Linked DNA regions of Homo sapiens. The protein of the gene in region 2 purifies or fractionates together with the protein of the main gene of each other region. This does not show direct contact. Each region holds a gene or a part of one and is shown on either strand. Other genes may lie near its edges.

Region 1 (4,765 bases), on a different chromosome or scaffold from region 2:
GCTCAAAGTTTTATGTTAATATGGGCAAAAGGGGAAATAAAATGCTAAGATAGCTTTTCCTCTTAATGAAGTCAAGGTTATAGAATGGCCTGTCCTGGGAAGTGTAGCAGATGTTTTGCTTCTGACCAAGAGGGATATTCTTCAGCAAAATTCTGAAAGCAGAAAAAGACAAAGTCTCAGCAAATGCATTTCTAGGAAAGATAGGGTAAGAGGTAGTGCGGGGAAGATGTTGGGGAGAGGTATTTATAGCCTAGTATAATGAAAGGAGCCTGGTGATATTAATAATCATTTAACATCGGATTTTATAATTCACAGAGTTACACATTTATTATTATTATTGTAGTTTTTGTTAGCCTAGGCCTGAGATAGAATGAAACAGTTTTCTTCATTACCAGTTCTTCTGCCAGAAAGTCCATGCTTAGGAAGAGAGAGGAATGAAAGATCAAAACCTAATTTAAATGGTGAAGAGTTGCCAAATTTGGTTAAGAAATGTCTAATTGGATTACAGATTCAAATTACAGAGTCCCAGTTGAAAGAAGCTAAGCATTTTGGCTAGCTGGAAAGGTTGTTTATTCAAGGGTGGAATGGGGCTGGCAGAGGCAAACAGCCTTTCACTATGAGAATGGCAGTGCTGGCTACAAGGCAGAGTCGAGACTGGCACAGCTTCATGGAGCTCAAGCTTGGCCCAGCAAGGAAAGCCAGAGGAGCTGTGGGTTCATTAACAGGATTGTTTGGGTGCCGAGGCCTGGAAGAACTGAAAAATCTAATTTAATATCTCTGCTTAGCAAGACTTGAGACATCCTTTTCCCTAAGTAAACAAGCTTGGTAAGTAATTGAAAAAGAGAATGGATTTGAGAACAAATAGGCAGCTATGGAAGTACATGGGCAGTGAGCTATTAACAATTTTCTAGGAGGTAGATTCTGTATTCTCTGTATTCTAGGAGTACAGAGAATACTGTACACTAGGAGCATTTGCTGTATTCTCCCTTTTGTATATTGGGTCTCTGGAAGCCTACAGCGTGGTTAGAGCTGACTGAATATTCTTAGATGTGTGGCACATCCTACGTGTGGCTGGGTCCTATGGATAGTTTTGCAGGCCATGATGTGCAGTGTCCCTTTAGCAGTCATTAACTCACAGTGAGTTATCAATGGGTGTTAGTTCTCTGTGGGTCTGACAACTTAGTATAGTGAAAAGAGTGCTGGCCTGTGGCTGAACATGCTGGAGAAGAGCTTGCCTGGCCACAGGGACACAGCCACGCAGATCCAGCATGTGTCTCCCATGTGCCAAGTGGAGCCCCCAGCCAAGAAGGCAGCCACACTAGCAGAGGGTGACAAGGACAATGACATTGACCTGTTTGTCAGCGACAATGAGGAGGAAGACAAGGAGGCAGCCCGGCTGTGGGAGAAGTGGCTGAGGTGGTATGTGGAGAAGAAGGCCAAGAAGACTGCGTTGGTGGTCAAGTCCTCCATCCCGCTGGACATCAAGCCTTGGGACAATGAGACCAATATAGCCCAATTGGAGGCCTGTATGCGCTTCATCCAGCTGGACGGGCTGGTCTAGGGGGGCCTCCAAGCTGGTGCCCATGGGCTACGGTATCCGGAAGCTGCAGATTCAGTGTGTGGTGGGGGACGACAAGGTGGGGACAAACTTTCTGGAAGAGGAGATTACCAAGTTTGAGAGCGTGTGTAGAGTGTCGATGTTGCAGCTTTCAACAAGGTCTGAAGCCTTAGAGTGTGTGTGCGTGCATGCGCACGTGTGCAAGTGTGTGAGGCCCTGCCACTATTAAAAACTGAGACCAACCAAAAAAAAAAAAAAAAAAAGAGTACTGGCCTAGGAGTCATAGAGTTGTTACTCATCTATTAATGTAGGATTTTATAATTTATAGAGTGCTTTCAACAACAGTTAACATCAATGCTATAAGCATGTGTATAAGGTTTACACAGCTTTTACACAAAGGTATTGAGTAGAGGCAGGAAGTAAATCCAAGCCTTCTGATTCCTAGTCACCGTAATTTTACCATGTATAAGTCATATAACCTTTCTGAAGTGAGTTTTTCCATCTGAAATATAGACTTAATACTCACTGTGTCTACCTCTTAAGATTGTTGTAAGATCATAGACAGAATGTGAAATATTTTGTACATTGTAAAACAAATGTACAAATGTGAAGTTGCAGTGGTTATGTCACTTCTTATGTTCTGGCACTGCAGGTGTGAGCTTTGGGGAAAGCTTCTAACTACAACTGTCCATAGTGTTGTGGAACTGAAAGGATTAAGGTTTTTCTCTCTTTATGGGATTATCATTACTGTTTATCTGATGATCTTTGCAAATTTCTGAAGCTAGCCTAATTTCTGAAAATCCCAGTGGAGGAAGAAATGGAATCCTTATTTCCATGGATTCCTGTTTCCCTTGAATCTTATCAAAATGGTAGGTAGATACTTGAACAGAGTCTGGGCTCTGGATCTAACCCTCCAGATGTTCATGAGTGGGTGCTTCAGAACAGAAAAGCTGCTTTCTTCATGATAGGCACAAGCAGGGCAGGGCCTTGGCTATCATTTCTAGAGGAAGAGAATTCCAGGATCTGTTCCCCCAGCAGGGTCAGTGATTGAGCAGACTGTCTTTTGCTTTCAGTGTGAAAGACCTGGCTCTTCAGGACCTCCCTTCTCTTTCAAGGGTTGTTGATAAGATGGGCTGGCCAGTTTGAAAATAAGATATAAAACAACACACAAGCCTGGCATTATATTTTGTAAGAAGATTGCTTTATAATCGTCTCTTCCACTGATCTCCTACAACTTTCCAGAGTCATGCTTAAAAATAAAATTTTAATTTTTGTTGTATTTTTTTTTCCTTTCATTCACTTACTCTCTTTGGCAAAATAAGGACTGCAATTCCAGAAATGTGGGGAGGCATCAAAGGTATGTAGCAAATGCAGGGAGAGAAATCAGTACAGAATCAGAGCGAGGATAAGAAGAATGATGGGTAACTGAGGCCTTTTTCAGGTCAAGTTAGTTCATAAACCTTTGGTTAATAAATCCTGATTTTTCTGGATTCTTGAAAGCTTTTTGGGCTACATGTTCAGCTGTTGAGTCCAGACTTTGAGAAGGTCATTTCTGCTTTAGTGTTATTGTCAGTTATTCCTGTTGCTCCTGCTGAGTCCCTGAATCTGTAGCTCAACCCGACAGCCCGCACTGTCTCTCTCCTGAGCGTGGCTGTCACTACTGCTCTCACCGGATTGCCTGTGGTGGGGAGGGGACATGAAGCTGCTTAGACCTGAATTTCTGTACTAGAACTTTTTTCTCAGTAGCTGACACCTCCATTCAGTTTAACATGTGCCTATGGTCACGCTTCTCAGACACACAAAAGAAATGTATGTCGGTCAGGAGTGGTGGCTCATGCCTGTAACCCCAACACTTTGGGAGGCCGAGGCAGGCGGATCACCTGGCCTGGCCAACGTGGTGAAACCCTGTCTGTACAAAAATACAAAAATTAGCTGGGCATGATGATAGGTGCTTGTAATCCCAGCTACTTGGGAGGCTGAGGTGGGAGAATCGCTTGTACTTGGGAGGCGGAGGTTGTAGTGAGCCGAGATCACTGCACTCCAGCCTGGGCGACAGAGCAAGACTCCATCTCAGAAAAAAAAGAAAAAAGAAAGGTATGTCATATTCCCTGTACCCCAGGAATCATGCAGTCTTACTGGGAAGTGAGGACTACATGAAAAAAAGAAAGTATGATATGACTATGCCTCACTGTGTGGTACAGAGAGTAAGTGCTATAGAAGGCCAGGAAAATGAAAGATGAGCCTGGGCCAGAGGAGCTATGGAGTCATTTCAGGTGGAAGGGCACTTGAACTAGGCTGTGAAGGAAGTATAAACAGTTAGGTAGAACGGAGGAAGGGTGGCACTCCAGGTCAGGAAACAGAATGATTAAAGGCCTAGGGGAAGAAGCAAACATGGCTTGTATCAGGAAACAAGGTGAGCTTTGATCTGGCTTTAAAGGGGGGTCCCTGTGGGGAACAAACAGTGTGAGATGATCAGGTAAACTGAATGAGCCTAAATCCCAGAGGGCTTTGAGTGATAGCAGAGAATTTAGACTTTATTCCATAGATAATGGGTATCACTGATTACCTTATGAACAAAGAAGGAACATGGTGAAAAAGGTGATTGAGATGGTTGGAACTGTAGAGGAACGCAGAGTGGGTTGGAAATGGGGAGCTGAAATGTATCCTCACTCTGATTCTGTACTGATTTCTCTCCCTGCATTTGCTACATACCTTTGATGCCTCCCCACATTTCTGGAATTGCAGTCCTTATTTTGCCAAAGAGAGTAAGTGAATGAAAGGAAAAAAAAATACAACAAAAATTAAAATTTTATTTTTAAGCATGACTCTGGAAAGTTGTAGGAGATCAGTGGAAGAGATGATTATAAAGCAACCTTCTTACAAAATATAATGCCAGGCTTGTGTGTTGCTTTATATCTTATTTTCAGCTTTATACATTTATAAATGTATAAAGATATAATGCTTTATATCTTATTGACTCTGGGATCAAGGGGAAAGGGTCTCACTGAAGGTGATGTCAGGGAGAATGGGAAGCAGAGTCTTATACCGGAGGTCTTTGAGAGGAGAATTGAAATTTGCTCCCTGGCTGTGAGGAGGAAAAGGAAGGAAAGAATCAAGCATTACTCAGAGATGTAACTGTGTAGCTGGGAGCACAGCAGTACCAATGTTAGAAATAGTGACACTGAGCCAGGCATGGTGACATGCGCC
Region 2 (4,765 bases):
GGGTTCCTACACTGCCCTGAGCCTGGGGAGCTTGGTGCTGCATGGCTCTAAGTGCCTTTGCCTGAGGCAGAGCCCTTGAGGGTTGGGGTGATCAACTTCTAGCTTACTGCCTGCTACAAAGTTAGAGTTAAGTAGATACTTGTTTACTGAATGAATAAATGAGCAAACTAAGAAGACAAAGGAATGATCAAATAAGGCCTGGCTGGGAAGCCTCAGTACTGTGGGGTATAGGAGAGGACAGCACTGTTCCCCTGAGCCAGTCTCTCTGTCACCCCCTTCCACCTCTCCACAGCTTTTCTACCTCGAAGAACAGAGGCGCCTGAGACTCCAGCAGCTGGCCACACTCATACAGAAGATTTACCGAGGCTGGCGCTGCCGCACCCACTACCAACTGATGCGAAAGAGTCAGATCCTCATCTCCTCTTGGTTTCGGGGAAACATGGTACGGTCATCCCCAAAGTCCCACTCTGTTCACTCTAATAGGGAAGATGGAAGGTGGCTCAGGAGGTGCCATTTTTCTAACAACTCCTATGTTTTCTACAGCAAAAGAAATGCTATGGGAAGATAAAGGCATCCGTGTTATTGATCCAGGCTTTTGTGAGAGGGTGGAAGGTAATGGAGAGTGGAAGAGAGGTTTCCTCACATTGTTTCTCCTGGATTGTGTCACCTGCTGGCTAGAGCAGCAGAGAGCTAGTCCTGCCTGCACCCAGGCCGCACCTCTGTGTATCAGCCGGTCCATGTGTGGGTGGGTGTCTGGGAGTGAGAGGCCTGTAGGGGAGACCTGTAGAGGTGTCTGGGTGGGTAGATGCCTAACTTGGCAGCAGAACTTTGCCTTCTGCTCTAAGTGTCCTCACTGCCAACTTGTCTGATTTTACTTCCAACTTCCAGCTACAGTCTCAGCTCTTTATCTTACTCAGGTCTTTGCGTGGTTGAAAAATAGTACAACCTCTTCTAGAATCTGCCTATCTTCACTTTGGCTCCTTTCTTGTACTTTTCTGCCAGGCCCGAAAGAATTATCGCAAATATTTCCGGTCAGAGGCTGCCCTCACCTTGGCAGATTTCATCTACAAGAGCATGGTAAGTGGTAGGGGTTAGGGTGGATGTTAGGGATGGAGCAGGGAGGCACAGGTTTGGGAGAGGGGTTTGAGAAGAGGCAACCCAAAGCTTTCCCCCAAGAGTTTCCTCAGTCTGCATGTACTTAAGTCCTAGGAGAAGAGGGCAGCTACCTGCAGGGACCAGGCCCCAGTGCCTTGGACTCGGGGGCAGAATCAGATAGCATTTTGGCATGAGTGGACAATCCAGGCAACCTTGTGGCAGGAAGGGGTCTCAGCACACCCACCATCTGGTCTATGGTCAAATAGCCTTGTGAAGATCCTGGGGCTGGATGTTTAACAACTGTTGAAGAGGCTAAGCCTCATTGAAGAGTAGAGTGATCCACACATTAACTAGCTCAACCTCCCAAGATCCATTTTAGGGTTGGGGTGAGAGTAGGCGAATTGTATCTTCCTTCTACTTCCTCTGAAACTATTGTCAGCAAGTCAGAAAGTAAATCTCAGGAAGGACCTATCCTAATTCTGGAGGACGTGGGTCAGGCTGGATGGGAAGACCCACCTGGAAGGCCTACATATTCAAACTTACAGACAGCTCCCAGGGGGAGAAAAACAGGGACAGAGAAGAGTAACTTCTGGAGACTTCAGTCAGATAGCAATAGTGCTTCTGAGAAGTGTCAGGGAGGAAACCAGGGAGGGAGAAGCACTTCCAATGAAACCTTGGGAAAGGCCAGAGAGAAGGAGGAAGAGCATGGGATCTTGGACAGAGGCTGGAGCAAATTGGTAATTGACCTCCGCTGATTGGGTTTTTGACCATAGTTAGGACCCTGACTGTGCTCATTCAGACATAAGACATGTTTGCTTGCAGCCCCTCTTTGTTGTTTGAGAGTCTGGATCCCTCAGCTCAAGAGAGGAATGGGGGCTCTGAAGCTCTGGACCTCTTTTTTGCCTTCCTGAGCCTTCATTTGCTCGTCCTCTTCCCCTTCCCAGGGAAGTTCCATCTTCCAGGTCTCTTCAGTTGCCTGATCACCTCTTGTGCTGGTGCCAGAGTGTCTGCCTTCCCACCATACATGCTTCTTGCTACACACCTGAGACCTGTAATCTGATTTTGCTGTTATCTCCTGACTGCCCTTCTTCTTCCTTTTCTTTCATCTGTGTATTGTCAGGCAGCTACTAATTGTCAACCCAGAAGCTGCTGGGTTTAGACCAGGGTCTCAATAAATCACACCCCCACAGAAGCCTGCGGGCACTGGGCACTGATTCCCCCAGTGTTTCTGAGTATTCCAGTTTGCCACTGCCTTGACTGTAACTAATGCTAGTATCCATTCTCATTTTTTTAATTTTTATTTATTTATTTATTTATTTTTTGAGACAGAGTTTCACTCTTGTCACCCAGGCTGGAGTACAATGGCGCGATCTCAGCTCACTGCAACCTCCGCCTCCCAGGTTCAAGTGATTATCCTGCCTCAGCCTCCTGAGCTGGGATTACAGGCATGCGCCACCATGCCCAGCTAATTTTTGTATTTTTAGTAGAGACAGAGTTTCACCATGTTGGCCAGGCTGGTCTTGAACTCCTGACCTCAAGTGACCCGCCCATCTCGGCCTCCCAAAGTGCTAGGATTACAGGTGTGAGCCACTGCGCCCAGCCTATTTCTTTTTTGAGATGGAATCTTGCTCTCTCGCCCAGGCTGGAATGCAGCAAGCATGATCTCGGCTCACTGCAACCTCCATCTCCCGGGCTCAAGCCATCCTTCAGCCTCGGCCTTCCCAGTAGCTGAGACCACAGGCACATGCCACCACGCCTGGCTAATTTTTTATATTTTTGGTAAAGATGTGGTTTCACCATGTTGCCCAGGCTGGTCTCAAACTCCTGAGCTCAAGTGATTCACTCGCCTTGGCCTCCCAAAGTGCTAGGATTACAGGTGTGAGCCACTGCACCCGGCCTTACCCATTATCTTTTGAACATCTACTATGCATTAAGCTCTTTACATGCATTAACTCTAATACTTTCAATAACCCTGTGAGGTAGGCTCTTTTCTTTCTCCCATTTTGTAGTTAAAAAGCCAAGGCTCAGAGAGGTTAAATAACTTGCCGGGGGTTCCACAGCTGTAAGTGGTAAAGCTGGGTTACAAACTATTTGACTCTAGAGCTTTTAACCACTGCCTAAGACTGCCCCTCATCAATAGAGGCTTGGGCAACCCATGGCCCTAGGCAGACCTGGGGGCAGGAGGGCTGCATAGGAAAGGGCAGAACTTTCTAGTTCTAGAACAAACAATAAAAAGAAGAAAGCCTTCAGAGGCTCCACATTAATTGGAACAAAGGGGATTATGACAGATGCTTAGGCATGTTTGTTGAATTATTAATAAATAAAATCAGACTAGGGACTGGGGACTCCAGTCTTGGAGGCCTTCACAGGCCCAGATCCCAAACCCACCAAACCCACTAGACCTGCAGTGGAAGCTACAATGAGCTTGGATAGTTCCTGCAGTTAACAGCAATATACTATGTATTCTGCCTCTTTCTATTTAAATTTTTTAACCTGATATCTTAGTAAAACTTTTTCATAAAAATTCCAGACATTTGGAAGTGCCAAAAATCAAGTCATTTTTTATATCTTCAGTAATTCTGTGCCATAAACAAACAGGTTGCTAGGTGCTCTATGGGATGTAAAACCTTGGCCAGGCAAGGTGACTCACTCCTGTAATCCTAGCACTTTGGGAGGCTGAGGCGGGAATATTGCTTGAGCCCAGGAATTTGTGACCAGTCTGGGCAACATAGTGAGACCTAGACTCTACAAAAAAAATTTAAAAATTAGGTGGGTGTGGTGGCTCATACCTGTAGTCCCAGCTACTTGGAAGGCTGAGGTGGGAGGATCGCTTGAGCCCAGGAGGCGGGCAAGGCTGCAGTGAGCTGTGATGGTGGCACTGCACTCCAGCCTGGGCGACAGAGCAAAACCCTGTCTCAAAAAAAGAGGCAAAAACAAAAACTTAAGAATCCTTGTTCTAGATTGGGGCAGACTAAAGAGTCAGTTGCCATGGATGAAGCTTGATTGGATCCTGGAAAAGGAAAAATAAAGCTTCAAAGGACATGTTTAGAAGTTTATAAAGGACATGTAGAGAAATCTGAGAGTGGATCGCTGTTGGATTAGTGATGTTGATTTTCTTAGGTGTGGTGATGGAGTTATGATTGTGTAAGAGAATGTTCCAGTTCTTGGGAGAGGCATGCTGACATTTTAGGGTAAAATGTCATGATATCTATAACCTACTTTAGGATGGTAGGGTAGCAAGGATTTGTGTAAATGTGTATATGCATGTATTTATATGCACACATATGTGTGTGTGTCAGAGCACACAGATAGTGCAAGGTGTTAACATTATCAGTTGGTGCATTTAGATGAGGAACATACAGTATACAGATGTTAATTGTATCTTTTTTCAACTTTTCTGTAAGTTAAAAAAACTTTCAAAATAATAAGCTATATTGAATTTTTAAAACATCATATTATGCTATTCTTCTGTATAAATTCTCCAATGGTGTTCCATTTCACTCCTTACCACAGCCTACAAGGCCCATCATGATCTGCCCCGACCTACTCTCTGATCCTCTCTCTTCCTGCTCAAGTGATTCTGGCCACCCTTTTTTTTTCTTCTTTTTTAGACAGTCTTGCTCTGTCACCCAAGCTGGAGTGCAGTGGTGCGATCTTGGCTCACTGCAAC

Evidence for each region. Proteins that work in one complex are often made in the same cells at the same time.
Region 1: the proteins of MYO1A (region 2) and MAP3K3 purify together in Homo sapiens (tandem affinity purification; one large-scale study listed by IntAct). This does not show direct contact.

What each region holds. Positions count from the first base shown.
Region 1 is NC_000017.11:63,635,391-63,640,155, forward strand, and holds part of MAP3K3 (mitogen-activated protein kinase kinase kinase 3), read left to right. Parts: intron 1-4,765. UniProt on the Homo sapiens protein: Component of a protein kinase signal transduction cascade. Mediates activation of the NF-kappa-B, AP1 and DDIT3 transcriptional regulators.
Region 2 is NC_000012.12:57,032,619-57,037,383, reverse strand, and holds part of MYO1A (unconventional myosin-Ia), read left to right. Parts: intron 1-292; coding exon 293-442; intron 443-543; coding exon 544-612; intron 613-1,002; coding exon 1,003-1,077; intron 1,078-4,765. UniProt on the Homo sapiens protein: Involved in directing the movement of organelles along actin filaments.